Linked DNA regions of Homo sapiens. The protein of the gene in region 2 interacts with the protein of the main gene of each other region in a biochemical or structural test. Each region holds a gene or a part of one and is shown on either strand. Other genes may lie near its edges.

Region 1 (7,000 bases), about 13 Mb from region 2:
TACTATGCATTAAATGTGAATCATACCCACCTAGTGTGAAGGGTTCTCTATCAAACGGAGCTAATGAACGATCTAGGGGAGGTTTCGTGCTTCTGTCTATTGAAGGAGCAGGGACTGGAAGGGGAAAAGGCTGACATCAATTAAAAGAAGAAAGCAGTCGGCTGGGGGTTGGGCGGGGCTAGGGGAGTGCCTGGTGGGAACAGGGCAAGAGAGAGCAGCCCTTGTACTCACGCTTTGCCGTTTTGTGGTTTCTGCTTCTGCTGGGTTCTTCGTGGTTGGTCTGGGGTGGGGGCAGTGGCTGCATAAAGATCCAAACGTTAGGAAGCACTTCCAATACATCAGCAAGAGCCGGCACTCCCAAAACCTGTCTGGATCTGCTCACTTTTCCTCATCTTCATGTTCTGCCTACAAACATCCATGTCCATTTCTTCACTGAACTACCGCAGTAGCCTCCTATCTGAGCTCCCTGTTCTAGACTCTGCCACGCAAGCTCTTTTCTGCAGGCAGCAGAGTGAGCATGTCACTTTCCTGCTAAGCCTCCTATCACATTAGAAACAAAATTGAAACTCGTTAATGTCCTGCGAGGCCCTGCCTGAGCTGGCCCATGTCTGCCCTCTCAACTCTTTCCTGTGATCCCTTCTCAGTACTCATGGGGTCCCTACCATAGAATCTTCTTGCAGTTCCTGGAAAATCTCAAGGTTATGCCCTCTTTGGCATCCCTACACTTGTTTCCTTCTGCCTAGAACGTTCTTCTCCCGGCTCTTCCCACAACTGGCTCATTCTGTCCCAGGTCCTTGTCACCTCCCCCCCCCATACCGTCATGTTACCTGGTCTTCCGTCCCCCGAACCACACATAACTACTCAAATGATCTCTTTCAGACATCTGTCTACCGTCTGATAACTAGCCCTAGTTGAGTTTTATGAAAGCAGGGACCTTATTTATCTTGTTCACACTTTATCCCCAACGCCTAGAACTCTGCTTGGCACATAGTAGCTGCTCAGACAATATTTGCTGATTAAATAAGTGAATCCTGCATCTCAAAAGAAGGTCTTCAAATCTCAAAAGCAATATACATCTGTAGATAAACTTGTGAAGGGAACACATTCCTAACTATCAAGTCCTTAGTCTGAGCTTCTCAGGGTCACTCTGGGAACTTATCAGATTCACAAGGACCGGGCTGTATGCTCGAAGAAGGAGAAAACGGGGTTTGCTACCTCTGTCTCCTCCGGTCTGAAGGCTCCTGTCCTTGGAATTTCAGGTGTCGGCCAGAAGGTGGCGCAAGTCTTTTTGCAGGAGAGAGGAAGGCTCGGTACCCAGGCAACACCAGTAGGTGCCACGGACTTAATTCGGTTCTCTTTGGGTTTATTTTACAGTTTTCACTTCTCTCAAATAGTGGGAAGTAAATAAAAACCACCAGTATTTTACCCCAAAAAAGAAACACGTGTGAATGCTTGGGTTTGCCTTTCCCCAGCCGAGGGAAAAGATTATAATCTTTTCTTACAAAATTAGAATGAGATAAAGATGTTTATAGTTTTATTTTTCTCTCTGGCGGAGGAAATAACTGCAGTGGACACCAAGTACTGTAAAAGAACGGGAGGAGGCCTACCGAGTGATTCCGGCCGGCTGGTGGGGGCGGGAGGGCGGCCATCGGTCTCTGGGGGGGCACAGGAGGCTGCTGGGGGGTTTTCCCAGAGGGGGGCCGGTCTGTGGAAACACAAGGTTATTAAAGTGAAAGGGGAGTATCGGCCAAGCTCAGGGGTCTCCAGGAACAGATATGCAGCTCGGGGCACCGGGGGTGCATGATCCTTGACCCCCAGGCCCACATGAGCCCCAGCCACGGGGAGACCCAGCCTGGATCTCACCCACCCCTCCCTGCCCATTTTTTCTGTCCTAGTTTGTGTCACTCTCCTTATACACAGGCTCAGCTTTCTTTGCATTTCACAGGAATAGGTATTTATCAGAGATTTTGCCAATCAAGAAAGGCCTCTTTGTAACCAGCTCAGCCAGAACTGGAAGGGAGGATTTTCAGACAATTTTGTAAGAAGTAAACATACGCATACCTCTGTATGCAGACACACAGATATACACATGTGCACACATGCATGCACACACATGCATATATATGCACACACCTGCATACACAGAGACACGAGTGCACACAGACACACACACATGCCAAAAATCTCACAGGCACACCCAGCTGCCTGTGCAGGGTGAAGTCAGCTCTCACTGCCATAGGGATCTTGTTCTGTCTGCCCTTCCTTCCCCTCTCCAGTGTCCTGGGCTATCTCCTCCCTGACACTTCCTCATTTTGCTCATCTCTTCCCATAAAGGGAGGAGCTGATCACCAACTTCTGTTACCAGACCACAGACTCTTAAGTGGAAGCTAGATTTGCCTCGAGCAGAAACTCACATTATCTGGGCAGAAACTCACATTATCCACATCTCCACGGAAGTGTCCCTAGGCCAGGTTGACAGGCTGGCAATTTCCTACCCCTTTGACAGGGAAAGGCCAGGACAAGACCATCAAGCAAGAGGGGTGAGTGGGTAGGGCCTCCTTACGCTTTGTGCCCTGGGTGCCTCTCTTGCCCGACTCTAGTCCCAGCCTTGGGGAGGTGCAGCTCTTCCACAGGGAAAAGGGTAGGAGCAAGGCCCAGCCTGATCTAATTCCACCCTGCTCCACCCGCACTGGCCATCTCTCAGCTTCTCTAATAGGCCATGCTCCTTTGAGCCTCAGGGCCTTTGCACAGCCATTTCTACTGCTCCAAATGTTCTTCCCTTACCACATCCATTTCCACTTGGCCAACTTGTATTTATCCTTTAACCTTGGTTTAATATCACAGCTTAAAGATACACCCTCAGGCAAACGCTCCAGCCTCATCTGTGCTTGTCTTCGTGCCTCTGTATCACGGTTTCACCAAGTAACCTCATGGCTCATTTGTTGGAGGGTGCGTCACCTGCCAGACTGTCAGTCCCTTGGCGAGGGCTGTCTTATTCACTCTGTATCTTAATGACTGGCACACACAAGGCACTCAACAACTGACTCATCCATTGCTTTTCCGGACCTCCACTTCCCTGTATATGAAACAGACTTGATCATGGTTGTCCTTATTACACAGATGTTTAAAAACCACCATGAGATATTGAGACAGCATTTTGTGAAAGGGCTTTAAAATGGAAATGGGTTATACCGCATAAAGGATTAAATGGTATTCGTTTTTTGTGGTACTGACCTTCAATTTTCAGCGTACTCTCTGAAAGTATATTATTTAAGAATATATTTGTTTATTTTCTGTCAACACCACTACTAGAATGTAAGCCCCAGGAGGCAGGGGCTATTTCTTCTTTCCTGATCATTTCTAAGCACTGAGAATGGGGCCTGGGCTCCCAGCAGATCAACAATGTTTGTTGAATGAATGGAGAGAGAAGTGGGCTAAAAGGACAGATAGACAATAAAAATCGTAAACACCATCTAATATTTTTTAAAGTTATAGTCAAACCCTACTCAATATCTTCATGTTTATTCTAGCATAATAATGCCATGTAACTATAATTTGGTCAAAAGATGGGGAGGAACAGGAAAGTACTCTTGGAGTACCTGAGTAAACTGCAGAATGAGTTGAAACTGCCAAATAGCCTTAGGTGGTAGTTCAATGCTGATATCAGCCACCATAGGCAAGAATTGGTTGCAGTCTTAGTAGTCCTCACAGGAAACCTATGTGGTCTGTACATTTATTATCCTATTTCACAGATGAGGAAATTGAGGCCCAGAGAGACAGAGTTACTTGTACAAAGCCACATAGCTGTTAAGAAGCCGAGCAGATATCGAGACCCAGAGCTTTCTGCTACATGGGCAAGCTGGGGCATCAGCCTTCCATGCAGCAGTGGCGAGCTTGCCTTTGGGCTGCTCGGGCCAGAAAATCCGGAAACGGGCCCTTACCGATGTACATGGAGTTGGAGTTGGGGAAAGGCTTGGCAGGCAGGATGGAGTTCTGCAGAGCTTCCTCGTCATTGGAGGGTGGCGGCTCATAATCCGCGTCATCTTCCACGGGTGCCTCTTCCTCCTCATTGGGGGACTCATAGTCTCCATCATCCTCCCCATCCTGGTCATCATTGGGACTTTCATAATCGTCTTCTTCCTGCCCACACAGTGATAGGGACAGTGCAGTTTGTAGAGGCTCTGTGGCCCTCGATGTGCCTGTGCCTACTCTCTCCCTGCCAAGCCTCACAACAGTATAACCCGGGACCAGGCAGCCTGAAGATGGTTACTCCCATTTTACAGATGAGGAATCTGAGGTCAGGGAGCACTGTACCACAGGGGCAGCAAGTCATGGACTTGAGACCTTGGTGAAGGTCTTCGGACCACCTTTTTACACAACACCTTTCTGCACAACAGAGAGAGAAGAAAGGGGAAGGATGCTGGAATAGAAGGTACCGGAATAGGCTCTGTCTTGAGTAAACACATTTTTTGCTCCAGGCATCACCATGAGAAAGACTAAAGGCCTGGAGCATTTGTGATGATACTAGTTAATTGCCATTTCTGTTCAAGGGTGCCTGTGCTCAAAAAATGTCCTCTCATTATAACCTGGTGCAGCGTTGAAGGCCCGGCTAAGGGGAAAAACAGATAAACAAAGCCTGTTAAGTGGAAGGCAGATTAAGTTGTGTCGAGGAGGGGACCGTCAGAGGCTGTGCTGTTCTTTTTGCTGAAAGTTGAGTGTATCAACACATCCATTATTCATGAAATCTGACACTGAGTTTGAAGCTGTTCTCTTGGAAAGAATCTCTAAATTTTAGATTTTTTATTGTATTTTATTTTTGCTTCTTCTTGGATCTCAGGGAAAGTAAGCCCGAGGTGCTGGATGCTTGCCTTTGAAGCAGTCCATGAAGGTGAATGAGCATCAGAATGACCTCCCAAGCAAAGGCGGCACCATCAGCAGCAGTGATGAGCGCTCATCATGGTCATGCCAAAGTCCAGGGGGTGAGTCAATGAGCCCAGACCTCAACACTCAAGGGCAGTGTGGGAAAAAGCAATGGGAAGTGGCCACTTTTTGAGGAAAGAAATGTTCCAGTGTCCTAGAAATCCTGACAGCTTTGGGTGGCCTCAGGCAGACTGTCTTTACGTTGTTCTGTTGAGAGAGTCCTGTGTTTGTTTTTGACTTGAGGAATATTAAAAACATCAACAACAGAGGGGCAAAGTGAGCATTGGGTGCCTTCCCAACTCCAAAAAAAGACTTTGTCCTGCCCTGTCAGGGTTCTTATAACTTTAGGAGCAGGTGGGCAGAGCCCCAGAGGAATGCTGCTTCAGATCAAGAGCCTCAGCATGGAGGTCCGCAGGCACGTGGCCTCCCTCCAGGCTGCTGACCCTTTCCTCACCCTGTCTACCCTAGGCCCATCATTCCTGACTTTACACCAGCTCTTTACCCCATCAACCTTTCTCAAATGACAGAATTTTCCTCTCTGCTTCTAGAACAATTATTTTCTCCCAATCATTTGGCTCCTAAATTTGTATGCATGATGTTGTTGCTAATTATATTCTGCCATATGTGTGTTAAAGTAAATTAAAATGGAGACCAGGCCTGAAGAATCCCTGAGCAGACAAAACCAGTTGGGCCTCATCAGTGACCTAAACCTTACTTGATTTGCAGCATAAGCAAAAGTTAACTTGGGCTATTTCTTGTAAATGCCTGTATTAAAGAAAAACAGAACTTAAGCCCAACCAATCAGAAGTAGCCAGCCAACTCATAATTATATAACTAGGAGCTTTCCAGCAAGATAGACTAAATGAGATCGGTTATAACTGTAACCCATCAAATATTTTCTTTTTTTTTTTTTTTTTTTTTTTTTTTTTTTGAGATGGAGTCTCTCTCTGTCACCAGGCTGGAGTAGTGCAATGGTGCAATCTCGGCTTACTGCAACCTCCACCTCCCGGGTTCAAGCAATTCTCCTGCCTCAGCCGCCCAAGTAGCTGGGACTACAGGCACGCACCACCACGCCCAGCTAATTTTTGTATTTTTTAGTAGAGATGGGGTTTCACCATGTTGACCAGGATGGTCTCGATCTCTTGATCTTGTGATCTGCCCGCCTTGGCCTCCCAAAGTGTTGGGATTACAAGTGTAAGCCACCGCACCCGGTTCAAATATTTTCTTTGTATTACATCTACATTCACTTTATAAATGCTTGTCCCTCATCCTTCTTCAGCAAAGCCTCCTTCTGGTTTGGTGCTGCCTGATTCATGAATCACTGTTTGCTCAAATAAACTCCTTAAAAAAAAAAAAAAATTGCATTGTGCCTCAGTTTACCTTTTTAAAATGGGGTATCCATACTGTAAAATGCTTATGATTGGGTCCTTTATCTCCACTCATTTCCCAGTATGCCCTTGCAAAGAGCTGGGCACATAACGGAGCTGCCAAGCTCTATAGCCACTAGTGAATGGAAGCCCTCAGTTTACAGAGAGGATCGAAGACTAGCCTCAGGCACAGCACAAGAGAGGCTGCATGGCAAGGATTCTGCCTCTGTGAGTAAACAGAAACATTCCAGCGGAAACTCTGGGCTATTTTCCCTTTGTACCAGAGAAATCTGTCAAATTCCTTCATTTTCAGGTAGAAAGCATAAACTTAGCTAAATCTTTTTTTTGTTTTTTTTCCAATTAAATACTTTCTTTTACCAGAATCCCAATAGGTCAAGGGACAGTTTGTTTCTGCCTTCTGAAGGCACTAGAGGTGGCCTCTTACCAGAAGGCCCACGTGACTGAGGGTCTGGTTACCTGGGTCCTAGGTCTGCCTCTAACTAACTTTGTGTTCTACGCACGTCACGTTCTGCTCTCCTGTGGACTCAGTTGCCTCATCTGTAAAATGAACAGATTGGGCTACGGTCCATAATAGAGTTCTTAGCCTGAGACTGCTTCATGGGTGGTGACTGTGTATACAGGTTCCTGGGGAGGGGTTGTACAATCCGTCAGACTCTCAGAGGGGGAACTGTGACCTTTCAATGTAAAAATCA
Region 2 (8,396 bases):
ATTCCCAGGCTGACACCCTTTGGCTGAATAAACCCCATTCAGAGTCAGAAGGTGAATGTGCTAAAGTGGCCATTGCTCCAAATGTCTCATTGTGGGGCCCTTGCTTGCTTGGTGCAGTGTGATCAGTTTCATCACCCATAGTGAGATGACTGCACATCAGCCCCAACCTTCCTAGTTATACACACTGGGGAGAGGGGAGTCATCCAAAAATGCTGTTAGTACAATTTCTTTCAAGTCCATTCTGTAACTTAAACCTGGTTAACAAAGTAGCTGCAAGGGTTGGTTAATAGGGTACTGTTTTAAGAAATAGGTAGGACTCATAATGAACAAACCACTTGGCTCCTAGAGATGGATAGACTAAAATGCTGCAGAAGATTTTTAACACTCATTCTTCTCCTAAAAGATTTACCTAGCCAAACTCCCCCCTGGTTTCTACTACTAGTAAGCCCTTGTCAAACCCTTCCTTCATACCGAATGGCAAAAATCAATCTTCAAGTAGTTTCTGTCCACAGTATAATTCTTGTAATCCAAATCAAAGAGGTTGTCTGGTATATTTTTTTGCACACTTTAGTATGCACAAACTATGACTTCAGGTGACATGGCAAATCCAGCAAGAACATTTGGCACATCCTGCAATACCAACATCATTCATCCCTTCATGGCCATTTGCACTTTTTAGAAATTCTAATTCCTTATGATGGCCTACCAGCTTCATTGCCTGTTGTTCTCCCAATAAGTCAGTACCCCTTGTTCTTTGGATGCACCAAGTTTTTGCACTTGCTGGTCCCTCTGTCAGGGACACTGTTCCCTGGCTCTTCAAATGGTGACAGCTCCCTCCTATCATTCAAGTCTCTGCTGAAGAATTACCTTCTGAGAAAGGCCTTCCCACACCACACTATTCAAAGCAGACCCTCTCTCTATCCTAGTCACTCTGCCCCATTACTGTTTTATTTTATTCATAGCACCTACTTATGATTGCCTGGCTTTATCTTCTATCCCTTAGCTTGTTTATTATTATTATTGTTTATGACTGTTATTATGATCTTTTGTGATTTTCTGTCTCCCCTCCCATCTCAAATTTAGTTCCAAAAGAACAGAAGTCTTTTCTGTTCTATGAACCACTGCATCCTCAGCACCTAGATTAGCCCTTGGCATAGAATAGATGATCAGTTAATTGTTGTTGAATGAATGAATAAATATTAATACTTATTGAGAGATAAGTATGGAAATGTAGTGTTGGACAAAACATGGTCCCTGCCTTCAAGGGGCTCATATTTGAATCTCCTGACTTCTCCAGCTTTTGACTTCACAGCAGCTGGCACCAGAACTCTTGTTTCCACTTTTAATTAACTCCCACCACCATGTCCAGTATCTCTAAAAACAAACAAAATGATGAAGGCCCTTTCATAGTTTTCGGGGCCTTTCTTACACAACCCTCCAGTGGGACACCCTCATGATATGATACAGGGTTCAGTGTGGGTAGGGTTGTCTGCATTTGATAAAGGAAACAGCTGGCCTGAAGCCCAGATCATGGGGCAGTGGGGCCCAGCATGACACTCACCAAATGACCACACATCGGACTTGCTGCTATAGCGACTGAAAGAGAAAACCTCTGGGGATGCCCACTTCACCGGGAATTTGGTGCCTGTGGAACTGGTGTACTGATCATCCAGAACGAACCTGGGAAGAGAGTGGAGGGAGAAGGTCAGAATGTTCCGGGGGCCTCAGTCCCATTCCTGAGACTTCACCGGCACCACATCCCTCTTTTACCTTGTCATCCCAAAGTCAGACACCTTGATGACTTGGTTTTCTCCCACCAAACAATTTCTGGCAGCCTGGAGAGGAGACAGGCAAACAAAGGCGGAGAGGAAAACTGTTGATGAGTCATCAGTAGTTAAGGAGTCTCCTATAATCACAGTCCTTTGCTTTACTGCAGTGCTGTCATACAAGGGCATCATGGAGCTTTACAAATGTTAATTAAGCCTCACAAATGCCGCTGGAAGTTAACTGGAAAGTTGAATGTGTAAGATCCACTATCAAGATGAGTAAGTTTATCTTCATTCTTGAGTTCTAATTAGAAATCCTTGGTGTTGTCTAACCAAAGATAGGCTCTAATGCAACCTGATGTGATAGGAAATGTTAACATCAGGGATAACAGGAAGAAAGCATCTCCCAGTTGACTAAATTAAGAATGTTTTGATGTTGTTAATCCTCTTAAAACTGTTCTTCAATAGGGAGAGTACCTGACCCCTAATTAGTATTATAGACTGTTGCATTGAAAAAGCCATTGGAGATAACACTCCAGTGTGTCTCAATTTTTTTTTTTTTTTTTTTTTTAGATGGAGTCTTACTGTGTCACCCAGGCTGGAGTGTAGTGGCTTGATCTCAGCTCACTGCAACCTCTGCCTCCTGGGTTCAAGTGATTCTCCTGCCTCAGCCTCCCAAGTAGCTAGGGTTACAGGTGCCCGCCAGTAAGCTCAGCTAATTTTTTGAATTTTCAGTAGAGATGGGGTTTCACCATGTTGGCCAGGGTGGTCTCGAACTCCTGACCTCGTGATTCGCCCACCTCGGCCTCCCAAAGTGCTGGGAGTACAGGCATGAGCCACCGCACCCAGCTGCATATCTCAAATTTTAATGTGCATACAAATCATACGGGGAATGTGTTAAAATGAATATTCCTGAGTCCCAGCCACCAGAGATTCTGAGAGTAGCTTAAGGGCTTCCCCAGTGTGATTCTGGTAGACCCTTGAATAATACCTTCAGACAAACTCAGTTTCCTCAATTTACCAGGAGGAAATTGAGTCACAGAGAGGTTAAGAAGGAGTGGCAGTTATCTCCATTTTGGAAGAATATAAACTGAAATGCAGGAGGTGAAAGAGTTTGGGCTGGGATCAGAGCCCAGAAGTAAGTCCTCATGAAGCCCTTTCCACTAGGACCACCCAAAGTAGGTGAAGGAAGGGAGAAGTTGAGAAAGGAAAGGAGATTATCTGTAATGTATTATTTATTAATGCGTTCCCAGTCATTTCAGTGAGAACTGTCCCTTTACCCTGGACCTGTGGGTGTTCACCCTGCATGCTCATACCAAGTCTCTGTGGATGACACATGCCTCTTCCAGGTAGGCCATGCCCTCACACACATCCAGACACATGCCCAGCAGGGTCTCTGCAGCAAAAAGTCCCCGCTGGGTGCGTAGATAATCTGACAGGCAGCCGTGCTCCATGAACTCAAACACCAGGCAGATGGGGGCCTGCTCCAGGCACACCCCATACAGCTGCACCAGTTTGGGATGAGAGAGTTTCCTGGAGGAAAAAGACAAGGGGTGAGATGGCCTAAACTCAGTCTCCCAAAAATGCCGAAAATATTATGGTACCAAAATAGCCAATGGTCATTTTGTCTAATTTATGGTTTGGATGAAAATAATATTCATTCCCTCCCCAAAACAAAAACATGTCATTGGAGCTGAGACCTGAAAAATGGCAAGGAGTCAGCTGTGTGTGTGAAGATGAGCAGAGGCCAGTGTGGCTGGCATGTCATGGACTGGAGGAGAGATGGGTAGGAGCTGAGAAGGGGGAGGTGGGCATGATCAGATTATGGTGGGCCTTGGAGACCACTGTGAAGAGTTTGATTGTATTCTCTGTGCAATAGGAAGCCACTGCTGGGAGTTTGCGCAGGGAGATAGTACCCCCTGGCGTTTGAATGGCATTTCAAGAACACTGAACCGATGTTCCCCCCAGAGTTTCTGCATATCCTTGTTCTGAGCACTCACATCATTACTTCAGCCTCCTCTATGAAGTCCTCTTCTGACATAGCCCCTTCCCGAATGGTTTTGATAGCCACCTTGTCCTTGTTGAGCCAGTAGCCCAGATGCACCAACCCAAATTGCCCACTGCCAATCTCTTGCACAAAAGTGAGCTCTGAGGGGTCGATCACCCATTTCCCTGGAAGAGAGAGAGAGAGTTCTCTGGGGTCAGCAAGCAGTAGATATAAGGTATTGGGATACCAGGGGACTATAAAGCCCTAACTAGAATTTTAGCCTATTGTTAATATAATTCAAAGATGGCAAATAAATTATCTTTTTCCCACATAATAACATAGGATATGCTAGAAAACTATGAAAATATGTGTGGGAAGGTAACATGGAAAGAAGGAGAGTGGCATTAATGAAGATATTAAAGAAACCATATTAATCAAAATATTAAAGAAAGGGTTCTTGCAATGTCCCATTTTTCTATGTCATTTTTCACACTAAGTAAATTTCATTGAGCTGATCATTCTTTCATTCATTCATCTATTAAGAGCACCTGCTATATACACATAACCCTATTAGGCCTTACTGGGGCAGAGGGGCAGTTAAAGAGAAAGATTTAAAGAGAATTTGTGCAGAGGCACAAGCTAGCACAGTGTCTGGCACATGGGAGGCTCTCAAGAAATGTTTAACAAACAAATACGAGATTCCGAGGCTCAATTTCCTCACCAACAAAATGAGTAGGCTGACCAGGTAATATCTGAAATCCCATCCAGCACGGACACATCAAGATTCTACATTTATTAGAATACCCTTATTTTCATAAGGAGGCTAAAGAGGCACTCTTTCCCCAGTGCTTGGTCTGGTACCTAAACAGCCAGATTTCCACTGCTTTGAGGCAGAGACTCAACAGCAGGCAGTATTGAGCACCTACTGTGTGCCGGACACGGTGCTGGTTAGGGATAAAGAAGCCCATGCGTGGCAGTGGTTCTCAAAGTATTGCCCTCTGACCACTTGTATCAAAATCACCTAGCATGCTTGTTTAAAATGTAGACTCAGCTGGGCACAGTGGCTCATGCCTGTAATCCCAACACTTTGGGAGGCTGAGGCAGGAGGATTGCCTGAGCCCAGGAGTTTAAGACCAGCCAGGGCAACATAGTGAGACCCTGTCTCTACAAAAAATTTTTAAAAATTAGCCAGGCATAGTAGCTACTTGGGAGGCTGAGGTGGGAGGATCGCTTGAGCCCAGGAGGTCAAGGCAGCAGTGAGCCATGATTACGCCACTGCATCTCCAGCCTGGGTGACAGAGGGAGATCATGCCAGAAAAAAAAGTAGACTCCAGGACCCTATCAAGGATTGTGTTTTGGTGAGTGTTTGGATAGGAGCCAGGAGTCAACATTTTTAATAAGCATTCTAGAAGACTTTGATGCACACTGAAATTTGAGAACCACCAAGCTAGGAGATAAGAAATGAAAATTAGACCAGCCTTCTCCACAGGCAGCACACAGTTGGGACCAAGGGATGCAAAGCCAAATGCCTTCAGAGTCCAGGCAGGTAATCCCAAGTGAGTGAAGCAATTCCGTAGGGCAAGAAAACATAGTAGGGGCTGCGGCACTGGAGATCATGCCACGCCTAAAGGTATTCCAAAGAATTTTAACACTCTCTTATGCAGAGAAACACTTCTAGATGCTCTCAACTTGCAGTTCTGGCAATAGTCTGCTACTCAACCAACTAGATGATATAAAAGTTCTAGAAGATAGGTGGAAACACAGTGCTAAGGCATGGTTTTCTAATATTTTTCTAATAGCATTTAGTAGGGTGCTCTGTACAAAGTAGGTGCTTAATAAACACTTCATTAATGAACTCTTCACTAAAACCAATGGCCACTGGTTTGACCTAGAGAAATGTGCTTGTATATGTACTTCTCTTACACACAATGTAAATATTCATTAGTGCCATCATCTCTAGATATATAATACACTTGTTTTAATGGTGATTTGTAGTCTGAGGAACAGGTAGGCTCATGGCCAGTTTATTCAGAATTTGCCCCAGACCTTTAGGGACATGAGTTTACATTCCTGATTGTACTGCTCACCGTATCTCAGCCCTGCTGTAACTGGGGCTTTCTGCCTCCCAAAACAAACTGGATACCGGAGTCGAGTCACCAGGCCTGGGTTGATTGAAAAGCCAAGAAGCAGTGGTTAGGGCTTTGCTCTAGCAACCATCTAACTTAAATCACTAAAAAAAATAATAATCATCATCAGACGCAAAAGCTAATTTTATTCTGGAAAACAAATCCCAAAGCCTAATTATTGATATCATATCCTCCTTGAAAACATCATAAGCACAGATGGGCAAGTGGTAAAATTCCATTATTTCCACAAGATAGCTTGCTAATAGAAGATATATAATATAATTAAATATTTGTCATATTTTTCTATTTGTATATTTATTTATTATTTATAGTCAAAAAGAAGCCAGGGCGAGCTTTTGCCAGTTTTCATTAAGTCTCCTGTGTGGGTGCTGATATAGTTTGGATGTTTGTCCCCTCCAAATCTCATGTTGAAATGTAATCCCTGGCTGGGCACTGTGGCTTACACCTGTAATCCCAGCAGTATGGGAGGCTGAGGCGGGCAGATTACCTGAGGTCAGGAGTTCAAGACCAGCCTGGCCAATGCGGTGAAACCCTGTCTCTACAAAAAATACCAAAATTAGCGGGATGTGGTGGCACATGCCTGTAATCCCAGCTAATCAGGAGGCTGAGGCAGGAGAATTGCTTGAACCTGGGAGGTGGAGGTTGCAGTGAGCCAAGATTGAGCCACTGCACTCCAGCCTGGGCAACAGAGCGAAACTCTGTCTCAAAAAAAAAAAAAAGAAAGAAAAGAAAAGAAAGGAAAAGAAAGAAAAGAAAAGAAAAGCCCTATGTTGGAGGTGGGGCCTGGTGGGATGGGAGGTGGTGTTTGGGTCATTAGGTGGGATCCATCACAAATGCCTTGGTGCTGTCACTGTCCTTGTGATAATAAATGAGTTATCACTCTGAGTTCATGCAAGACCTGGTTGTTTAAATGTCTGTGGCATCTTCTCCCTCCTCGCTCCTGCTCCTGCCATGTGATACTCCTGCTCCCCTTTTGCCTTCTGCCATGACTGAAAGCTTCCTGAGGGCTCCCTAAAAGCCAAGAAGATGCCGGCACCATGCTTCCTATACAACCATGGACCAATTAAACCTCTTTTCTTTATAAATTACCCAGCCTCAGGTATTCCTTGATAGCAATTCAAAAAAGTCTAACCCAGGTGCCCTCTGGCTTTGTCCTCTAGAGCAGCAGTCCCCAACCTTTTTGGCACCAGGGATCGGCTTTGTGGAAGACAGTTTATCCATGGAGGGATGTGGCAGGGGGTTGCTTTCAGGATGAAACTGTTCCATCTCAGATCATCAGGCATTTGATTCTTATAAGGAGCACACAACCTAGATCCCACAAGTGCTGTTCACAATAGGGCTTGCACTCTTATGAGAATCTAATGACGCTGATCTGACAGAAGGCAGAGCTCAGGCAGTAATGCTTGCTCACCTGCTGCTCACCTCCTGCTGGGCGGCCCGGGTCCACCCCTGCTCTAGAGCTTACCTCCTCCATTATGTTGGTGATAGTTGATGAGAAGAGGGATGGAATCGAACACATACTTTTCAGCCACATAGTATCGCTTAGGATTGTCATTTGTTTCCTTGATGTGATAATGCTTTATACAGGGATTGTTCTCACTTAAACAAATGAAACACAAATGTAATGATTATTAAGAAGCAATGTTGAGACACAAAAAAGTCTACGAGTATTAAGTTCTTATTATCTTTGTCTTATAACCTCTCACAAGGTGGCAGATATTGTTCAACTTATAAGTCTGTCTTGACAGATTGGGCCTGGGTGCTGCAGTACTGTGTTAAAAAGGACTCTGAGGTTGTGTCTGGACCCAGTGGACAGCAATGCTGTGATGGATTGGTGATGGTTCTTCCATTGCCACAAAATGAGGGAATGGAAATATTTGCTATGTGTTTGCCTTGCCTATTCTATGAATTTAACTGATTGTCAGCATACATTGAGAAAGCCTCTCTGACCCCTTCACCCTTATTTGACTTCATAAGTCAAATAAGCTGCAGAGGATGAACATAACAGGCCTGACTACCCTCCTTAGAAAGACCTGCTTGCATGGTTAACCCTTGGCTGGTGTTTGGGAACTTGGATTTCGGGAGGGCTCTTTCCCTAACTGATAAGGGTGGCGAGCTGTACCTAAACCGTCTGCTAGAAACATGTGTTTTATGGTGAACGCTTGTTTTCCTTTTGGGTATCTGGAACTTTGGCATGTGCTAGGCAGGGGCTGTCTGTGGAAACAGCCTCCAATAAAAGCCTTGGGTACTGAGTCTCTAATGAGCTCCCCTGGTAGACTGCTAACGTGTGGTTACAACTTGTTGCTGGCGGAATTAAGCACGTCCTGTTTGGCTCCAGTGGGAGAGGACTCTTGGAAGCTTGTGTTTTGTTTCCTCTAGATTTTGTCCCATGTGTCTTTTCCCGTTGCTGATTTTGCTTTGTATCACTTTGCTGTATTAAATCTCAATAAGTCTTTGTCCTGGAAGGCCTCCTAGTGAATCCCTGAAGCTGGGGGT

Evidence for each region. Proteins that work in one complex are often made in the same cells at the same time.
Region 1: the proteins of ITK (region 2) and LCP2 form a complex in vitro, tested with the Homo sapiens proteins (2 studies listed by BioGRID, with this or other methods).

Annotation. Positions count from the first base shown.
Region 1 is NC_000005.10:170,266,778-170,273,777, forward strand, and holds part of LCP2 (lymphocyte cytosolic protein 2), read right to left. Parts: intron 4,141-7,000; coding exon 3,942-4,140; intron 1,706-3,941; coding exon 1,608-1,705; intron 299-1,607; coding exon 232-298; intron 115-231; coding exon 31-114; intron 1-30. UniProt on the Homo sapiens protein: Adapter protein primarily involved in signaling pathways within T-cells, as well as other immune cells such as platelets, mast cells, and natural killer (NK) cells.
Region 2 is NC_000005.10:157,239,165-157,247,560, reverse strand, and holds part of ITK (tyrosine-protein kinase ITK/TSK), read right to left. Parts: intron 7,500-8,396; coding exon 7,366-7,499; intron 5,916-7,365; coding exon 5,841-5,915; intron 3,939-5,840; coding exon 3,767-3,938; intron 3,300-3,766; coding exon 3,083-3,299; intron 1,836-3,082; coding exon 1,771-1,835; intron 1,681-1,770; coding exon 1,562-1,680; intron 1-1,561. UniProt on the Homo sapiens protein: Tyrosine kinase that plays an essential role in regulation of the adaptive immune response. Regulates the development, function and differentiation of conventional T-cells and nonconventional NKT-cells.